2 separate regions of the Homo sapiens genome follow, and region 1 is linked to region 2. The links come from fine-mapping of genetic effects on gene expression. A gene starts in region 2. The other region holds a variant in brackets. All regions are shown on one strand. Distances are from middle to middle. Region 1 overlaps ARF3 (ARF GTPase 3). Region 2 holds the start of DRC2 (dynein regulatory complex subunit 2).

What was found.
Region 1: its variant is fine-mapped to the expression of DRC2 in gastroesophageal junction (GTEx, PIP above 0.99).

Annotation. Positions count from the first base shown.
Region 1 is chr12:48,930,317-48,940,880 of GRCh38, reverse strand. ARF3 (ARF GTPase 3) reads left to right here. Exons shown (of 5, transcript NM_001659.3): 3 at 774-884; 4 at 1,102-1,226; 5 at 1,773-5,158. The coding sequence ends at 1,934. It also overlaps a transcript of FKBP11 not described here. Among named protein-coding and RNA genes, the nearest start is that of FKBP11, 10 kb to the right of the region's middle. RefSeq lists a silencer at 4,203-4,392. The variant T/C (reference allele first, on the strand shown) is at 5,362.
Region 2 is chr12:48,898,351-48,908,914 of GRCh38, reverse strand. It overlaps DRC2 (dynein regulatory complex subunit 2), which reads right to left and starts at 4,782. Exons shown (of 8, transcript NM_033124.5): 1 at 4,447-4,782; 2 at 3,802-3,969. The coding sequence starts at 4,578. It also overlaps the pseudogene RPL32P27. RefSeq lists silencers at 4,776-4,825, 7,303-7,503.

The DNA of each region.
Region 1 (10,564 bases), 32 kb before region 2:
TTCCCCAACCTGGCCTCTTCTCCCCAGGCAAGTCCATACAATTTGTGGGGTTCAGAAAAGAGGGTGGTGTTGTTTAGCTTACTACCAGGTGCTGAGGCTGCTGTTTGCCCACCTAACCTGGCTCTCCCTGATGCGGGAACTTCCATGGCCTGGCACTCAACAGCTGCCCTCAGGCACGGAGTTGGTTTCTTCTCTGTGTTGTTTGGAAAGCAGGTAAAAGGCTTTGATGTTCCTGCCAAAGGCTTGGAATTACTTGGGTTTAGATCTTTGGTGGCCAATCTTGGTTACAGTTTGCTGAAGGGAGGTCTCCCTACATTTGCTATGTAGATGGGGGCTCCAGTCAGCATTGTCAGCTGGCTCTGCCTTTGGGGCTCCAGGATGCCAGCTTACTTCCCTTTCTTCACTCTGCCTCTCAGGCCCCACATCTTAGCTGAGGCCGACTCTGGTAGCCAAAGTACCAGAGCAGGGCTGAGTCATTTTGTAGGAGGGAGCACCAAAGACTGAGTGGAAAAGTCAGGAAAGTTGGCCCACGTTACCCAGGCAACTGTGAACCTCTCAACCAACTTCCTCATCCTCTTTGACTTCTCTTAGGTTTTCATTTTGGCCTTCAGGCTGCTAGCTTAACGATTATCAGGTCTGAGGAAGCCTTAGCTTTTGTTCCATTGTTGGTGTTATGGCCACCACTGGGGGAAAGCAGAACCAAACTCATTGTGGTGGTGTTTGCGGGGCTAGTGTTTGAGGCCAAGTGGCCATTGCCTGTTTTTTTTCCAAAGGGTTCAATGTGGAGACAGTGGAGTATAAGAACATCAGCTTTACAGTGTGGGATGTGGGTGGCCAGGACAAGATTCGACCCCTCTGGAGACACTACTTCCAGAACACCCAAGGTATGCTCAGGCCTAGCGTGGGTTGGTTGGGTATGAGCAGAGAGTGTGGCTGTCTTTGTTAATGGGTGGCCAACTGTTACCCTGCTGCAGCTCCTGGGGGCAGAAGAAAGGGAGGAAAGGGAGCAAATATTTGGAGGGTGTCAGGCAGGTGTGGTCTTTTGGTTGGGGGGAGGGGGTTACCTGTCATCTTAGTGCAGCCCATGCTCTGCCTTCCTAGGGTTGATATTTGTGGTCGACAGCAATGATCGGGAGCGAGTAAATGAGGCCCGGGAAGAGCTGATGAGAATGCTGGCGGAGGACGAGCTCCGGGATGCTGTACTCCTTGTCTTTGCAAACAAACAGGTGAGACTTCTTCCCACCCCTGAATTTGGGAGACAGCAAACTGGCTGTGGAAATTGTTGGCTCTTGGGCCTATTATATGGTTAACCCTTTTAGTATGCTCTCAATGTTAGAAGCGTGGGAAACTGAGCACTTGGCTTCTTTATGCCCCTCTTCTTGTGCCCCACCCCAAGCTTTATTTAGCAACATTTCAGTCCTCAGGAATTGTCTCAAATCTTTCTTTCATCTTGCCTGTTATCTACTTTAGGAGAATTGGCCTCACTCCTGCTGTCAGACAGACCTGATTCTTTGGTCAGTCTGAATCACGTCTCTTGCTTCCCCACCATCCTCGTATTTGGTTTCCAATTCTTCAGTACAGTGACCTCTAGTGCTTTGGATCTTGAGTTCTAGGTGACTAAATCCAAAGTAGCTCCTTAGGATCTTGTTCTGGGTTTCCTAAAATAAAGGAGGAGGGGAAGGTGCTGGTACACATTTCTTTGGTAGATGGGTGTTCTAGAAGCCTTTAAAAAATCCTGAGGCTTCTTTTTATGTGTCTCCCACGTGCTCCAGGATCTGCCTAATGCTATGAACGCTGCTGAGATCACAGACAAGCTGGGCCTGCATTCCCTTCGTCACCGTAACTGGTACATTCAGGCCACCTGTGCCACCAGCGGGGACGGGCTGTACGAAGGCCTGGACTGGCTGGCCAATCAGCTCAAAAACAAGAAGTGAAAGCCAGACAGCCCTAACAAAGCACCCCACCCACCCCTGACATACCTACTGTCACCCTGCCCCAGTCCTACCCCTTCCTCTCCATGCAAGTGTGGCCAGGGCCCTGGGTATCATGTCCACATGCCCAGCAAGAGCCTTGCCTCCCCTGCCTCCCCTCCTTTTTCCTGTCCACCTATATGACCAATCCCTAATTGCTGTCCTGATGATGAGTCATTCCAATTTACTGGATTTAAAACAAAAAGTTGTTACGGTTTCATGGGGTGGCCCCTCTCTCTCTCACCCTCTGGGTTTCGGGAGGTCGAGTGGGGTATTCTCTTTGTTTGGCAGTGGTTGCTGTCCTCTTGGCATCTGAGTCCTTTCCCTGTCCCCACAAGCCCTTCTACTCCCTGTTTGCCTTTCCTTTGCCACCCTCTCCCTGTTTTACATGGAAATTGCACGGGCCTCTCTGTGTTTGCGTGCATGTGTGCGCCTGTATATACATGTATAGAGAGATATATTTGTGGGGGCCGGGGGGAGCGGGGAGGGGGTGGAGTGAAGCTCAGGGCTTGCAGCCAGGACACTGCCCACTGGAGCCTGTCATCTGCCCCTTCCGTGTTGGTGAGATTAAGGGAAGAAGGTGGGAGGGCATTAGTCAAGCCGGACTGCCCCAGTCTTTGACTGGTTACCCTCCTCTCTGCAGGTAGGTTTTTCTGGATGATAGGACAGATGATGGATTCTTCACCACCATTTTCCTTGTACTCTTCTCTCCACCCTTCTTAGGGCTGGAGGATGGCATTTATCTCTAGATGACTGTTCCCAAGGAGATGCCACTCTGCTCTGCCTTACTGTTGGGAAGGAGAGAGGAACCCACTCACTCTTATCAGCTTAGAGTGTTCAACTGATCCTTCCCCACCATCTTCAGATCTGTTCCTCTGGAGCTTGACTGGGGGGTGGGGATGGCAAGTCCATGGTGTGTGTTAGGGACCCAGGGCATTGGGGGAAGGGAGGCGAAGGCCTGAGGTTTTCCATCTTCATTCTCTTTTGTTATTAGGAGAAGGTGAGGCATGGGCCAATCCCATTCCTGCCTTCCAGTGCCCCACCACCCTTCTGATCTTAGGGGTTGGATGGGTCATCTGTCCTTGGTCAGAATTTTCTCACCCTAGTACTCCTACTGGCCTGACCAGGGCTGACTGGGTATTCTAATGAGGAGCTGGGAAGTGGGGTGACATAGCTGACCTTAGTATCAACCCCCCTCTTCTCCAACTCTTGTTTTCTAGTCCAGGATATGCTAAAGGACGAAGATTTTCTATTGTTTCCAGGCCCTCAGACCATCCTTGCTGTCCCTTCACCCTCCATGCCCCTGCCATCCTCACTCACTTCTCATAAATGGATCTGGGGGTTAGAGTGGAGGAAATAAAATCCTGAAGTGGTTGTCAGTGCTTGTGGGATGCAGTGGTCTTCAGGATTCTCCCCGCATTATTATGTAGTTGTTCAGAAGCTGTTGCTACTGCGTCTCTCTGTCTGCAGGGGGCACTTGTTCCTGAGGTCCTCGCCTGGGTCCTGACTTCTGTAGTTTCTGTGAAGACGTGGCTGTCCTGTGGGCTCCTGTGTGTGCTGGCTGCGCCCTGAGCTCCGAGACAGCTGCCCATAACCTGCTAAGGTCAGGGCCCAGGGCCCCCCACAGCATGGCTGAGGGACCCCTTCCCAGTAGGGCTGTCCCAAGCCCCACTCCATGGGGCCAGGTTTCCTGGCCACTTTTGTTGATAGCAGATGGATCAATATTAGTAACCCCATCCAAGATTGAACTGTGAAAGAGAGGTTCCAGGGGTATCTCCCTCAGTGCCAGTTACTTAGTGATGTGTTACCCAGGATGCAGCAGGTGTGTGCAGGTATCTTGCTCTCTAGGCCTGTGTGTGTGTGTGAGTGTGTGTGTATATGGGTGTGGGTGTGTTTGTGTGTGGTGGTTGTGGGGGGGGTGTTGGAGGTTCTATTTCATTTAAAAATGTATTCATTTCCCTGGCCCCACAGATGCTTCCCTCCATACTTTTTATTTGCTCTGTTTCCTCAGATTTATTTTGTCTTGCCCCATTGCCTCTCCTTCCTTGAACTCTTTCCTTTTCAATCTCAACTCATTCACTGCTGTTGCTCATTTGCCCTTTTCCATGTATTTTTTCCTACTTAGGATTTTCCACTCTATCTTTGTGGTTCATGAGGACTTTGCCTCTTCTCCTGCCTCATTCCCTGACTTTCTCTAGTTAGATGTCAGTCCTAAATAGGTTTTCCTCACTTCAGGCCTCACCCCTCACCTTGTTTTTTTGGGGGCTCCAGGGACCAATCTGGGGCTGGAAATGTTAGGAGGTTGCCTTGGTGCTGCCCCAGATCTGTCCAGCAGGGGGCAGTAAGTGATCTTGGTAGTATCCCTGGCTGCTAAGCCCTTGGCAGGGGTGGTCCTTTCTACATTCCCATTCACTTAACAGCTCTTTTGGGATTGGGTGTTTCATTCCATTTCTGCCCACTCCCTCTCCTCTCCTCTCTGGTAGGTTTAATTTTATGCTTTCCCTGATTCCAGCTTTCTGCTTCCTGAGGACTCCCGCTCCCCCCACCCCAAAGTTTGTCTGTGGTGTTATAGTGGTAACTGCAGTTCCTCCTCTGGAATGTAGACTGTATATGTTTAATAACTCACCTTCTCTATCCTTGCTCAAAATGTGGGATAACGCGATGACTGTGACCCTGGTTGGAAATTAAACTTGTTTTATGCAGCTTTGGAGCCGACCTTCATCTTTGCTGTGCAGCAGCCGTGGGACAGTAGTTTCATGGTGAGGGGAGTCCTGTTTCTGGTCCCTCTCTCCATAGTGCTCCTTCTTTCAGCAAAGGGGTAAAAGGCACACTTGATTGATAGAGAGTAAGGTTATGGAGGAACTTAGTGCCACTCCACACTGGTTATTTCTTCCCATCATACCCCGCGGCGGGGGAGCCCAAATGAATTGGGCATCAGAGTGTGAGGGCTTCGTGACTTTCCTCCTCTAGTTCTAAAGGGTTTAAACCTGAAATCAGCTGTATTTCTCACCTGTTGGTAGACTGTATGGACTTCACTGGCTGAAGGGCCCTGAACTTGGAGGGCCCCATGTGCCTCTACTCTCAGATCTCCTCAGCCTTGCACATGAGGTGCTTCTAGTTTGAACAGAGACCCCCTCACTAGTCTAGTTCTGGACTTTGGCAGTGAATAAACATGAAGGATAAACGTCTGGGCAGTGTAATGACCTTAATCCTTCTTACAACTGATGGCCCTGCATCAGCTCTACTTCAGGCGTGTGGTTTTTCATTGTCAGGATGCCAAGCCTCATCCAGAGATCCCACAAATGTCTTGAGGAATAGACCTTTTCCATAAAGCCTCCATCCTCCCATCGCACTCCCACCACTATTCTGTTCCTCCCCTGCTACCAGTGTC[T/C]GGCTCCAGGCAAAGAAAGGGATGGTGCTACCTTTAGGGTGGGTGAGGTCTGGGTGAGCCAGGCAAGCCTTCCCCAATCTTAATATTTTCTTAAGCTTTGAGGACAGAGGTCTTCCCAGCCTGCTTTTGTGGGAAAGGGATAGGATTTAGGCATATAATAAGTTTGAGAGCCCCAAGTACCAGTGTGAAGCATATAATTTATATTCAGTTACTTCCCTGCTGCCTCCCCTGCCAATTTTCCTTTTCAGCACTTCTATTATTAATAGGCCATCACCCTCAAGGACCAGTGCTTCCACCCATATATAACTCTCAAACTACTCCAACCAGACATGTCTTATCAATCCCAATGACTTTGAACATTACCCACCTACTCCTCAAGATCAGATGACACTTTCCTCCTTCCAGGCTTCTCCAAAGTTCTGCTTGGTGACAGGGTGCTGATAAGAGTATCTTTCCCAAGTGTTTTCTTTCTTCTTCTTCTTTTTTTTTTTTTTTTTTTTTGAGACGGAATTTGGTCTTGTTGCCCAGGCTGGAGGGCAATGGCACGATATCGGCTCACCACAGCCTCTCCTCCTGGGCTCCCGGGTTCAAGCAATTCTCCTGCTTCAGCCTCCTGAGGAGCTGGGATTACAGGCATGCGCCACCACACCCGGCTAATTTTGTATTTTTAGTAGAGATGGGTTTCTCCATGTTAGTGAGACTGGTCTTGAACTCCTGACCTCAGGTGATCTGCCCACCTCAGCCTCCCAAAGTGCTAGGATTACAGGCGTGAGCCACCACGCCCGGCCAGGTGTTTTATTTCTATATTAGCAAATAGATATCTTTCAGAGCTACAACCTCTCATAATGATAAGGGAGAGGACTTTAGCTGAATGGTGGGCCACTGGGGGGTCTTTGGACCCCTGAACAACTTGGGGAAGAGGATGACCTATTCCCATCTGTCCCTTAGTACTCAATTTAGAATGCCAGGAAGGAAGTAGAGGGGAGCCCTCTTGTGGCAGTTGCTGAAGCCTTCCAGTTCTTTTGAGGGGATAGGGGATGAAGAGGAGACTGAACCTGGGAGGTAGATACTTAGCACCCAGCTCTTAGGACAAACAGCAATCCCATCTTCCAGAACATGCATAGCATCAGTCATGGACTGGCGGAAGACTTGGACCCAGGGTCCACTTCAGGATAATCTGGGCAAGGGAGCTTCCCAAATGAGCCTGTAGAAAGCCAGTGGAAGGGCTTAGGTTGGCTAAGGTGGGATGGAGGGCAAAACCCTCCCCTTCATTGCAGAGTATAGGGGCAGTGGCAGAGAATGAATGTATGTGTGGGTTTCTCAGCCTTGAGGTATAAGGTCTAAAGGCTCTGGGGATTCACTGCATACACCACTTCCAGTTCAAGCGCCTAGGTTGGTTACAGCAGGAAGTTGACAAGTATGTATTTAGTACATTCGATGTTTTTAGGCATCTGCTAAAAGTAGGTCAAACCACTGAACTCAGGGAGGGGGCTGGGGATCCATTTCTAGGATGCTGTGGAATCCTTTTGGGACATCTGTAGTATACCACGTTGGGTAGTGAGAGTTGGGGGACACCCCTTCCATTGCTGCTGCTTAGTGTAGGGAGTCATGTCTTTGGGCAGCAGTAATATTATTAAGAAAAGCTTTTTTTTTTTTTGAGACACAGTCTCTGTCACCCAGGCCGGAATGCAGTGGCGTGATCTCGGCTCACTGTAACCTCTGCCTCCCAGGTTCAAGCGATTCTTGTGCCTCAGCCTTTTCCGAGTTGCTGGGATTATGAGTGCACACCACAACTCCCTGCTAATTTTTTTTTTTTTTTTTGAGACGGAGTCTCACTCTTGCCCAAGCTGGAGTGCAATGGCGTGATCTCGGCTCACTGCAACCTCTGCCTCTCAGGTTCAAGCAATTCTCCTGCCTCAGCCTCCGAGTAGCTGGGACTACAGGTATGTGCCACCATGCCCAGCTGATTTTTCTATTTTTAGTAGAGATGGGGTTTCACCATGTTGGCCAGGCTGGTCTTGAACTTGTGACCTCAAGTGATTCGCCCACCTTGGCCTCCCAAAGCACTGGGATTACAGGCATGAGCCACCGTGCCTGGCAGAAAAGCTTCTTTTCCAGTTCTGAAGAGTGTGAAGGTAGGAGAGCCAGAATTCAGTTCTCTCACTTTCCAACCCAGTACCTGGAGAGAGAGTGTCTTGCTGGTCACTGGGGAGTGATAGGATCCGGATGCCCGCCTTCCTCTTCAAGTTTTTCTTTCTGATTGGGTTTCCTGACCCTGATTGCTGGTATGGGTAAGAATGACTCTGAATTCCTGAGAAAAGGGAAGAGGGTTAGGACAGAGGAAATGGAATCATTTAGTCAGGTAAAGGGAGCAAAGCCACCGAAGGCAGTGGTTGGAGGTGTAGATGTGAGGAAGTTGGGTTGAGACCATTCACCATCAAGGCTTGAAGATGAGTGTCTGTTTGTGTGTGTCATGTTGGCTGTGAGTTGCAGAAGAGAGTATCTGGCCTCTAGTTGAGGAGCACTTCCGGCTTCTGAGCTGAACATGGTGTAGAAGAGAGGATACTCAATCCAAAACCCTGGCTATCTATGCAGAGGGCTGACCAGTTCTACCCATGTACCCTTCCTTCCCTCACCCTTCCTCACAAACCAGGCATATTGAGAGCTGTCTGGCAGTCAATCCAGGCGAGGCAGCAGGTTTGAGAATGGGCTTGTCCGCCTGGCACCTGCTTCCCCCCACTTCCACCTTCACCCCTCCATCCCATATATCGTTCAGGGTCCTCCCAGCACAGAATTGAATAGAAGGACTTTTAAGGCTTGGAGGGCTTAGCTTGGGGCTCTAACCCACAGGAATTCTTTCTGAGTTCTGAATATAGTAATAAAGGGCACTCTTGGCCTTAGGTTATAGATAGGAGATGGGGAATCTGTTCTTGTCTTTGCCAAATCTTGCATTTATGGGATGATACCTCTTTGATTAGAACAGCCATAGGGGAAGAGTGGAGGAAGTAAGTAAGTGCTTCATTCTTGGATGAATATATGCATAAACATACCTGAAAGAAAACATCTAGTCAGCTGGGGGTATGTATACCCTTGAAAATACAACACCAGGCCAGGCATGGTGGCTCAATTCTATAACCTCAACACTTTGGGAGGCTTAGGTGGGAGGATAGCTTGAGCCCAGGAGTTTGAGATCAACCTGGGCAACATGGTGAGGCCCCATCTCTATAAGAAAAAAAAAAAAAAAAAAAAAAAAAAAAATATATATATATATATATATATATATATATATATAAATATATGTTTATATGATATATATACAATTATATGTTTATATTATATATATATATATATTTTTACTTTTATTTAAAAAAAATAGAGATGGGATTTCACTATGTTGCCCAAGCTGGTTTCAAACTCCTGGGCTCAAGCAGTCCTCCCACCCCAGCCTCCCAAAGTGCTGGATTTACAGGCATGAGCCATTGTGCCCGGCCAAAAAAAAATGTTTTTAATTAGTTGGGCATGGTGGCACGTGCCTGTGGTCCCAGCTACTCAGGAGGCTGAGGCAGGAGGATTGCTTGAGCCTGAGAGATTGAGGCTGCAGTGAGCTGTGTTTGCGCCACCGCACTGGTGACACAGCAAGACCCTGTCTCAACCAAAATCAAATTTTAAACCCAAATTTATATATGCCAACTCAGGCTTTTACTTTATTAACAACCTGTTATAAATAAACACTTAAGAACATTTAAAGAGCAGTGTTCTGCTTATTCTTTGGCACATAATAGTCATGCAACCTTGATGAACAAATGGATGAATTAATAAACACCATTGTCTTTAATCAAGCTGGGCATGGTGGGTGCCCCATGAGTCTTGGAAGCCCAGGTACTGTGGTAGGGTTTCTCCTACACACTGACAGAGACACCTTTGAGTGTGGAGGCTTTTCTAGCAATGGTTCTGTGATTAAGTTGTATCTCCAGCCAGGGGTGGGCCAACTCTCCTATCTTTCCAAGAATCATCTCACCTTTCTCTGTTGTTTGGATTTCTTCTAACTTGATCCAAGGAAAAAGCTCCTTCTCTGGTCCCTCCAGGGTGCAGATGGGCTTGTGCTGCCTGTGGGTGGATATTGTGTTTAATAGTTTTGCCCTTTCCATTTCTACTACCACCTTCTCCTACTCCACTCCTCTTCCCCTTCAGGTTCCTGAACAGAGCCTCAGACCTGGATAAGACAATAGCCTTCCACCTTCACCACACTGTTCGAGTCTGCTGATACATCAGTGCAGTATGCTGTGTCATCCTTTTGCTTAGAAACTTGCAATGTGTTCCCACTGCCTTAGTCTGACATTCAAGGTTCTTCACAACTAGCCTTTTTTTTTTTTTTTTTTTTTTTTTTTTTTAAGCTGGAGTCTCGCTCTGTCGCCCAGGCTGGAGTGCAGTGGCGCGATCTCGGCTCACTGCAAGCTCCGCCTCCTGGGTTCACGCCATTCTCCTGCCTCAGCCTCCCGAGTAGCTGGGACTACAGGTACCCGCCACCACGCCTGGCTAATTTTTTGTAATTTTAGTAGAGACGGGGTTTCACCGTGTTAGCCAGGATGGGTCTCGATATCCTGACCTCGTGATCCGCCCGCCTCGGCCTCCCAAAGTGCTGGGATTACAGGCGTGAGCCACTGCACCCGGCCTACAACTAGCCCTTAATTCCCTCTCCAGCCACCTCTCTCTAGTCTCTGGCCAAATCCCTTACTTTAGCCAAATCAGTCCATTCATTTTTCCCAAACATCTGGCCCTCTGCCTTCACCTCCTTTCTCACTTGTTTAAAAATCCCACTCCAAGATCTAGCTCAAGTTTCACCTCCTCCACAAAGCTGCCTGTGCCCTCTGCAACTACAAGGACTTTTATAGTTTTTCCCCACGTTGGCTCCTTTAGCTCTGTTAGCACAACTCATTTAACACCTCCCACTCATTCCCTTGTATTGCTATATATCTTGTTTATTCGTGTAATATTTAATATTAAAAATTATTTTTATAACCTGAGAAGTAACATCTGAGCAGGAAAAAAATTATAACCAAAGTAATTTCTATTGTAAAAGATCCAAACAATACAAAAATATACAGAGCAACATGTGGGACATTGCCCTTACTCTTCTCTCTCCCATGCCCAAACGTAACCATCCTCAGCTATTTGATGTGCATCCTTCTAGTTCCTTTTTTAA
Region 2 (10,564 bases):
ATTTCTGCTTTAGAAAGATAATCCTGGTACTCATGCCTATAATCCCAGCACTTTAGGAGGCCGAGGCAGGTGGATCACCTGAGGCCAGGAGTTAGAGACCAGCCTGGCCAATGTGGTGAGACCCCATCTCTACTAAAATTGCAGAAATTAGCTGGATGTGGTGGCATGCACCTGTAATCCCAGCTACTCAGGAGGCTGAGGCAGGAGAATCACTTGAACCCGGGGGGCAGAGGTTGCAGTGAGCCAAGATTGTGCCACTGCACTCCTGCCTGGGTGACTCTGTCTAAAAATAAAATAAATAAATAAATAATAATAATAATAATAATAATAATAATAATAATAATCCTGGTAGTTCTGCAGAGAATCTAGAGGCAGTTCAATGTGAAGGGTGGAAAACAGGAAACTATTACTAATAGTGTAGGTTAGAGATGATGCCCAGGTCTCAACTACAGGAGGACAGTGGAAAAGGACAGCAGGGTATAGCTTTGAAAACTACTTTAAAGTAGACGACTTATACAACACTTAGTAACAAAGGTCAGGGATAGATGCAAAATCTAGGATGGACCGAGCCCAGTGGCTCATGCCTGTAATACTAGCACTTTGGGAGGCCGAAGTGGGAGGACTGCTTGAGGCCAGGAGTTCAAGACCAGCATGGGCAACATAACGAGACTGCATCTCTATAAAAAATTTAAAAATTTGTTAGGTGAGGTGGTATGCTCCTGTGGTCCCAGCTACTCCAGAGGGTGAGGTGGGAGGATCAGCCTGGGCAACACAGCGAGACCTTGTCTCTACTAAAAATTAAAATAATTTAAAAATTTAGCCAGTCATAGTGAGAGCCTGTAGTCCCAACTGCTCAGGTGGGAGGATCACTTGAGCCCAGGAGCTTGAGTGTAGTGAGCTATGATTGTGCTACTGCACTTCAGCCTGGACAACAAAGTGAGACTCTGTCTCAAAAAATAAAATAAAATAAAGCCAGGGTAATGTGTAAGATTGGCCCTAGAAAACTGGTTAAAGGGTGAGATGGCCAGACTCAGAAATCCGGGGAATGCTGAAGTTCAGAGGATGGAGAGAGGAAGATAAACTCACTGGAGTGACTGATTTATGTCCCAGAGGTAGGAAAAATGACAGAATGGTGTCATGCAAGCCAAAGGAGAATTTCAAGACCCAGGGCATGACCAAGAATGTCAGTGCCATAGAGAGGTTAGGTTAGATAAAGACTAAATGATGAAAAGTAGCCACAATTCTGAACCAGTGGCCTTTACCTGAGCAGTTTCCTAGAGAAGGGTAGAAATCAGATGCTGTGGGATACAGGGTAAAATGGAAGTGAAGAAGTAGAGATAGTGAGGATCACTAACATTTCCACATTTAATATGTGTAGTCTCATTCAGGAATGACCCTGAAGGTGGTTAATATTAACAGTGTGTGATTTACCTAAGCAAGAACTGTTATCATAAGCTGCAAGGCTGCTGTGTAGGAAGAAGTTAATTGTCTCGGGGTGAACCTGGCCAACTACTCAGCTTCCCTTAACCCATTCATGCCTGAGGTTGCAAATATTTTTTGTGAAAAATCAGATCTTGGCGATGACCTTGAACAGTACGAGATACATAACTCCCACAAACTTAGCATTCCAATAATGGAACACTAGGCAATGAACACTGCTGTTCTTATCAAGTGTTTTTTTGTTTTGTTTTGTTTTTTTTGAGACGGAGTCTCGCTCTGTCACCCAGGCTGGAGTGCAGTGGCACAATCTCTGCTCACTGCAAGCTCCACCTCCCGGGTTCACGCCATTCTCCCGCCTCAGCCTCCCGAGTAGCTGGGACTACAGGTGCCCGCCACCACGCCTGGCTAATTTTTTGTATTTTTAGTAGAGATGGGGTTTCACCATGTTAGCCAGGATGGTCTCGATCTCCTGACCTCGTGATCCGCCTGCCTCAGCCTCCCAAAGTGCTGGGATTACAGGCTTGAGCCACCGTGCCTGGCCCTCTTATCAAGTGTTTGATAACTTCCAATAAGTGTCTGAAAAAGCCTCTTAAAAATCCATAAGGTATGGGCTGGGCGCGGTGGCTAACGTCTGTAATCCCAGCACTTTGGGAGGCCGAGGCAGGTGGATCACCTAAGGTCAGGAGTTCCAGACCAGCCTGGCCAACATGGTGAAATCCCGTCTCCACTAAAAATACAAAAATTACCTGGGCTTGGTGGTGGGCGCCTGTAATCCCAGCTATTCAGGAGGTTGAGGCAGGAGAATCGCTTGAACCCAGGAGGCAGAGGTTGCAGTGAGCCGAGATCGCGCCACTGTACTCCAGCCTGGTGACAAGAGTGAAACTCCTCAGTGGCTGGGCGTGGTGGCTCATGCCTGTAATCCCAGCACTTTGGGAGACTGAGGCGGGCGGATCACCTGAGGTCGGGAGTTTAAGACCAGCCTAACCGACATGAAGAAACCCCATCTCTACTAAAAATACAAAATTAGTGGGCGTGGTGGCACATGCCTGTAATCCCAGCTACTCAGGAGGCTGAACTCGGGAGGCGGAGGTTGCAGTGAGCCAAGACTGCGCCATTGCACTCCAGCCTGGGCAACAGGAGTGAAACTCTGCCTCAAAAAAAAAAAAAAAAAATCCATAAGGTGTAACTGGTGGGGTATGTGGACTTCTAATGAATAATGGTTATTGCAAATTTGAGGACTCTTAATATTTATCTCTGGAAGCTGCCCAGGGTCTGCTGAGCTCTTTCCCCAGGGATTAGGCTATGAAAGAGAAATGTGTGTTTTCTAGAGGGGGAATACCATGTTGGCAATGTATATTTTGCTGTTACTGTGGGCTTTGTTTTGTTGAAAATGGAAAAGACTCTGGCTGGGTGCAGTGGCTCACGCCTGTAATCCCAGCACTTTGGGAGGCCAAGGCGGGTGGGTCACAAGGTCAGGAGATCGAGACCATCCTGGCCAACATGGTGAAACCCCCATCTCAACTAAAAATACAAAAATTAGCCAGGCATGGTGGCACATGCCTGTAGTCACAGCTACTCGGGAGGCTGAGGCAGAAGAATCACTTGAACCTGGGAGGCAGAGGTTGCACTGAGCCGAGATTGTGCCACTGCACTCCAGCCTGGCAACAGAGCAAGACTCCATGTCAAATAAATAAATAAATAAATAATGGAAAAGACTAAGGAGAAGGCAGTAAATGGAGGCAGAATATTAAAAGTAAGACAAAAGAAGGGGTACAGAAAATCCCTTAGAAGAAAAGATAGGATGGAATCAAGAACTCAAGAACCTCCCAAGAGCATAAGGATGGCTGATTGAATTGCTTAGAAATCCAGAACTGCTCTTACCCATGGAGATCTTCTCAACCTTATCCAGGGCCACTGAAGTTGAATCAAGAGGCCAAACAATTTAGTTGAATGGAGCACTGCAGTGGGAATCAATAAACACATGCTGGAGTCCTGGTTCTCTCACTGACTAGCTATGTGACCTTGGGCAAGTCAGTTCCCCTCTGGAACTGAGCCTTCTGACATTGAAATGAAGGTGTGGGACTCATTTCAAGTCACTGGGTGATGTCTACTGTGCCTTATGACTCTACTATTGGATAGTACTGGTTTTGGGCAATAGATGACAAGAAGAGTGGGTCCTCTAAGGGAGAGAGGGATGAAAGCCCAATATTCTATTTTTTATTTCTGTGAAAACCATTATTACCAATAGCCTGGCTTTCTCACAGCCTGTGTCTTGTGAGGGCTTTAAGATGGATTCACTAGGCTCATTCTATTAAGAGGTCAGGAAGCCATACTCAAGGTTTCCTTGGAAAGAGTGCCTACCTTGATGACATTGTCCTTACAGTCCACCACTCGTTCAAATGTTTGGCTGAGGATCTCAATGTCCTTATGAAGTTCTCTGGTCTTGACTTCCCGAAGGACAGTTCTCCACTGTGTGTTAATCTTATTAAGGTTCAGAGCACTGTTGTGTTCCTCCTTGGCCAGCTTGTCCTGTGTGAAGGAATAAATATACCTCCAGGAAGTCAGGGCCTTTCAGTACAACAAACAAGATCACTCTTAATTTATCAGCTGACACCTTACCCCTTTTCGATGGGAACGGCCTGATGGCATTTAGGGAGGGCAAGGGTGAATTTCCTTCAGGGTGGGAGCATCAGAGTAGGATGTTGTTTGTAATGACCTATCTCCAGGGAGAATATCAGCATTCCAGACAGCTGGAACAGCTGACAGGACCTACGGTCCCAGTTCTGGGATTCAGTAAAGATTGCCAAGCCGTATACCACGCACCCCCTCCGTGCTTCGCAGAGAACACCCCCGCCTCCCAAACAATGTTGCCTGAAATCTAAGTATATCTGGGTCTCAGGATTTCCGGAGGAGGGGAGGTCAGGATGAAAATGAGGTTTCCTCAGTGACAGGGCCAGGGCAGGGGGTGGATGGGGTTGAGCAGGACATAATGCAAAAGGCCATCACCTTCAAGAACTGGCTGAGGAGCCTCTCCTTCTTTTTGGCCATCTCCTCCTCTGCCAGCAACTTCTGCTGAAACAGAAGCAGCTGCTTCTCATCGGACAGGGGCGTCTTGGCCATTTTTTCTTTCTTAGGCATGGGGGCAGGGGATTGGATCCGGGAAAGAAGCCTCGGTCTGCCTCGGCCCGCGTTACAGAGCTTAGAAGAAAAATGTCCCTAGAAAGGGGACTTCCAGAAGTGCCCCTGGTTGTGGGCGGTTGTGGGACCGGAGATCTCAGCCCTCGAACAGGAGAGATCCCCGGCTATCAGTGAGGCTGAGCTCTCCCACTGTAAGACGCGTCTAGTCTCCTAGCAACGAGGATATCGCTAACATGGAGAGGCAACAGGCTAGAAGAGTCCCTGTCTTGGAGCGCCCCCTACCCAGTGGAGGACCGCGGTCGGTTTTTGAGAGGGTCCTTTTAACTCTCAAAAATCTGTCTCCTCAGTGCATTTTATTTATTTATTTATTTATTTATTTATTTATTTATTTATTTATTTTTGACATAGAGTCTCTCTCTGTCGCCTAGGATGGGCACGATCTCGGCTCACTGCAACCTCCGCCTCCCGGGTTCAAGCAATTCTCCTGTCTCAGCCTCCCCTCAGTGCACTTTTATAAACCGTCCTCAGAACCCTTGGGAAGCCCAAGATCGTCAAAAAGAGAACCAAGAAGTTTATCCGGCACCAGTCTGACCGATATGTCAAAATTAAGCGTAACCGGCGGAAACCCAGAGGTATTGACAACAGGGTTCGTGGAAGGTTCAAGGGTTAGATCTTGATGCCCAACATTGATTATGGGAGCAACAAGAAAACAAAGCACATGCTGCCCAGTGGCTTCCGGAAATTCCTGGTCCACACGTCAAGGAGCTGGAAGTGCTGCTGTTGTGCAACAAATCTTACTGTGCTGAGATCGCTCACAATGTTTCCTCCAAGAACCGCAAAGCCATCGTGGAAAAGAGCTGCCCAGCTGGCCGTCAGAGTCACCAACCCCAATCCCAGGCTGCGCAGCAAAGAAAATGAGTAGACAGCTCATGTGTATGTTTTCTGTTTAAATAAAACTGTAAAAACTGCAAACAACAACAACAACAAAAACCTTTTTTAAAAAGATAAGTGTTGGAGAGAATGTGGAGAAACGAGAACCCTCATATATTGGTGGTAGAAATGTAAAATGGTGTAGCCACTTTGGAAAACAGTTTGGCAATTTTTTAAAATGTTAAACATAAATTTACCATGTGACCCAATAATTTCACTCTTAGGGATCTGCCTAAGAGAAATGAAAGCATGTATACACACAAAAACTTGCACAGGAATTTTCTTATCTGTCTCACTCATAATAGCCCAGTTGGAAAAATTGGAGACAACCTAAATGTCCATTAACATGTGAATGAGTAGACAAAATATGCTATGTCCATACAATGGAATATTATTCAGAACAAACTATGGATACCAGCTACAATGTGGATGAACCTCAAAAAGAATATGCAGGCTGGGCGCTGTGCCTCACACCTGTAATCCCAGCACTTTGGGAGGCCGAGGCGGGAGGATCGTTTTAGCCCAAGAGATCGAGACTAGCTTGAGCAATGTGGCGAAACCCCTTCTCCACAAAAAATACAAAAGAAGTTAGCTGGGCGTGGTGGTGCGTACCTGTTGTCCCAGCTACCCCAGGAGGCTGAGGTGAGAAGATCACCTGAGCCCCAGAGGTCAAGCCATAGTCAAGCCACTGCACTCCAGTTGGGTGACAGAGCAGCCCTGTATCAAAAAGAAACAACAACAAAAACAAAACAAACAAACCCTTTTTTTTTTTTTAAGACTGGAGTCTCACTCTGTCACCCAGGCTGGAGTGCAGTGCGTGATCTCGGCTCACTGCAACCTCCACCGCCCGGGTTCAAGAAATTCTCCTGCCTCAGCCTCCCGAGTAGCTGGACTACAGGTGTCACCACCATGCCTGCCTAATTTTTGTATTTTTAGTAGAGACGGGGTTTCATCATCTTGGCCAGGTTGGTCTCAAACTCCTGACCTCAAATGATCCACCAACCTCGGCCTCCCAAAGTGCTGGGATTACAGGCGTGAGCCACCATGTTCGGCCAAAAAAACCCCTATGCTCAGTGAAATAAGCCAGACACAAGTGATTACATATTGTATGGTTCCATTTATATGAAATATCCGGAAAAGGCCAAGCTATAAAGACAGAAAGTAGATTACTTTCTTTTCTTCTCCCTTCCCTTCCCTTCCTTTCTTTCTCTCTTTCTCTCTCCCTCTCCCTCTCTCTCTCCTTTTTTGACTGAGTCTTTCTCTGTTGCCCAGGCTGGAGTGAGGTGGCACAGTCTCGGCTCACTGCAACCTGCACCTCCCAGGTTCAAGTGATTCTCCTGCCTCAGCTTCCCAAGTAGCTGGGATTACAGGCACCCGCTACCACACCCGGCTAATTTTTTGTATTTTTAGTAGAGATGGGGTTTCACCATGTTGGATCACCTAAGGTCGGGAGTTCGGGACCAGCCTGACCAACATGGAGAAACCCCATCGCTACTAAAAAGACAAAATTAGCTGGGCGTGGTGGCACATGCCTGTAATCCCAGCTACTCAGGAGGCTGAGGCAGGAGAATCGCTTGGACCCAGGAGGCGGAGGTTGCGGTGAGCTGAGATCGTGCCATTGCACTCCAGCCTGGGCAACAAGAGCGAAACTCCGTATTTAAAAAAAAAAAAAAAAAGCGAATTATGTGATATGCAACATGTGCCCCAATAAAGTTGTTTTAAATATGAAATATAATACATTACTCAGAACTCTCCAGAAAAACAGAACCAATAGGATGTGTGTATTTATTTATTATAAGCAATCGGTGTTATTATTGGAGGCTCAGAAGTCCCAAGATCTGCAATTAGCAACCTGGAGATTTAGGAGAACCGATGTGTAGTTCTAGACTAAAAGCCAGCCAGCTCAAGGTCCAAGAAGAGTCTGAGTTTCAGTCTGAGTCAGAAGGCCAGAAAAGACTGCCTCAGCTTAGGCAGTTAGTCAGGAGGAGCTGCTTTTACTCAGCCTTTTTGGTTTATTCATGTCTTCAATGATTGGATGAGGCTCACCCATGTTACAAGGGCAATCTGCTTTACTCAATCTACCACTAATTAATTCTCAATCCAATTCAAATATTAATCTCATCTGGAAACACCCTCACAGACAAAACCAGAATAATTTTTTTTTGTTTATTTTTCTTTAGACAGAAAACTCATTTTGTCACCCAGGCTGGAGTACAGTGATGCAATTGTAGCTCAGTGCAACCTCGAACTCCTGGACTTTAGGGATCCTCCCACCTCAGCCTTCTGAGTAGCTGGGACTACAGGTGTGCACCACCATACTCAGTGTTTTTTTTTTTTTTTAGTCATAGTCTTGCTGTTGCTGTTGTCAGCCTGGGCTGGAGTGCAATGGCATGATCTTGGCTCACTGCAACCTCCGCCTCGCAGGTTTCAGCAATTCTCCTGACTCAGCCTCCGGAGTAGCTGAGATTACAGGCATCCACCACCACGCCTAGCTAATTTTTGTATTTTTAGTAGAGACGGGGTTTCACCATGTTGGCCAGCTGGTCTCGAACTCCTGGAACTCCTAACCTCAGGTGATCCACCCACCTTGGCCTCCCAAAGTGCTGGGATTACAGGCGTGAGCCACCGTGCCCAGCCAACTATTTTTTTTTATTTTAATTTTTTTGTAGCGACTGGGTCTTGCTATGATGCCCTGGCCGGTCTTAAATTCCTGGCTTCAAGCGATCCTCCTACCTCAGCCAACCAAAGTGCTGGGATTACAGGCACAAGCTACTGTGCCTGACCTCCAGATTAATGTTTGACCAAATGTCTGGGCCCTCCGTGGCTCAGTGAGGTTGACACATAAAATTAACCATTACAGGCCGGGCGCAGTGACTAACGCCTATAATCCCAGCACTTTGGGAGGCCGAGGCGGGCGGATCACGAGGTGAAGAGATCGAGACCATCCTGGCAAACATGGTGAAACCCCTCATAAAAATATAAAAATGAGCTGGGCGTGGTGGCACACGCCTGTAGTCCCAGCTACTCTGGAGGCTAAGGCAGGAGAATTGCTGGAACCCGGGAGGCGGAGGTTGCAGTGAGCCAGAGATTGTGCCACTGCACTGCAGTTTGGCGACAGAGCAAGACTCTGTCTCAAAAAAAAAAAAAAATTAGCTGGGCATGGTGGCACACACCTGTAGTCCCAGCTACTCAGGAGGCTGGGGTGGGAGGAACACTTGAGCCTGCATTTCGAAGCTTTGCATTGATGCTGCACCCCAGCCTGGGTGACAGAGCAAGACCCGGTCTCAAAAAGAAAAATAAAACACTAATCCCTTCCTCAGAAGAGGAGGTAAAATCCTTGAGTGATGTTTACTCTTCTTCATATCCCATAACTCAGATATTATGATGCAAAATTAATAATACTTAAAACTATGACATAAAGTTAATACATCTTATGTTACATTATGAGGGAATAAAAGAGAAAAGAAAATGAAGATATTTGCTTGATATACACACACATAAACATATAAATAACAAAATGAGGAAATACTCATGGCAATCATAGTCCTAGGGTCCATAACTGGTCACGTGGTCATAGCTGGTATTAATAGCTACCGTTTTCTACTACTATCCTATTCCCTTTGCCTTCAGCAAGCACCTTAACAGGTGTTGACCTGTTTCTTTACCTGATGGACTGACTCAAAGCTTCATTTCTGAAGGGTCTGGGCCATTAGTAGTCCTGGATTGTTTTGTTCTAGTTTTCCATTGACCTTAATCACAGGTCACAGTAATACTGAGATGACCTAAGGAATCTTCCTTAGTATATCAAGGAATCTCCTTGATATGCTCATACTTACCTCCATTGTGAAGTAATATTCCAATTTTTCTTTTTCTTTTTTTTTTTTTTTTGACGGAGTCTCACTCTATCACCCAGGCTGAAGTGCAATGGTGCAATCTCAGCTCACTGCAACCTTGGTCTCCTGGGTGCAAGCGATTCTCCTGCTTCAGCCTCCTGAGTAGCTGGAAATAGAGGTGTGCGCCACCATGCCTAGCTAATTTTTGTATTTTTATTTATTTATTTATTGTTGTTGTTGTTTGTTTTTTTTTTTGAGATGGAGTCTTGCTCTGTCGCCCAGGCTGGAGTGCAGTGGTGCGATCTTGGCTCACTGCAACCTCCGCCTCCCCAGTTCAAGCCGTTTTCCTGCCTCAGCCTCCTGAGTAGCTGGGATTACAGGTGCAATGGCATGATCTCGGCTCACCGCAACCTTTGGCTTCCAGGTTCAAATGATTCTCCTGCCTCAGCCTCTTGAGTAGCTGGGATTACAGGCATGCGCCACCATGGCTGGCTAATTTTTGTATTTAGTAGAGATGGGGTTTCACCATGTTGGCCAGGCTGGTCGTGAACTCCTGACCTCAGGTGATCTGCCTGCCTTGGCCTTCCAAAGTGCTGGGATTACAGGCATGAGCCACCATGCCCGGCCTCCAATTTTTCATTGCTAGTTAGGATCAATCACCCCAGCCAGCACAGTAACTTCTTTCTTCGCCTGCCGACACAGAGCCCTGAGGATCCCAAAGTGGCCAGGGGTCTCTAGTGGTAATTGTGCATTGTGCTATTCCCATTTCCATCCTTTAATTCCTGGACCTATGAATCCTGGCTGTGGAAGAAACAGCCCTATGTATTGAACACTGATTCAGAACATAGACAGTCTTCTAAAGATCCATGCTCAAAAAAAAAAAAAGACAAGATCCATGCTCCAGCCTTGCAAGGTGTTGTGACCTAGCTGATAACATAAATGTGTTTTCAAAAGGTCATTCCAGGCCAGGCACGGTGGCTCACACCTGTAATCCCAGCACTTTGGGAGGCCAAGGTGGGCGGATCACCTGAGGCGGGCAGATCATGAGGTCAGGAGATCGAGACCATCCTGGCCAACATGGTGAAACCCCATCTCTACTAAAAATACAAAAAATTAGCCAGGTGTGGTAGCGGGTGCCTGTAATCCCAGCTACTTGGGAAGCTGAGGCAGGAGAATCACTTGAACCTGGGAGGTGCAGGTTGCAGTGAGCCGAGACTGTGCCA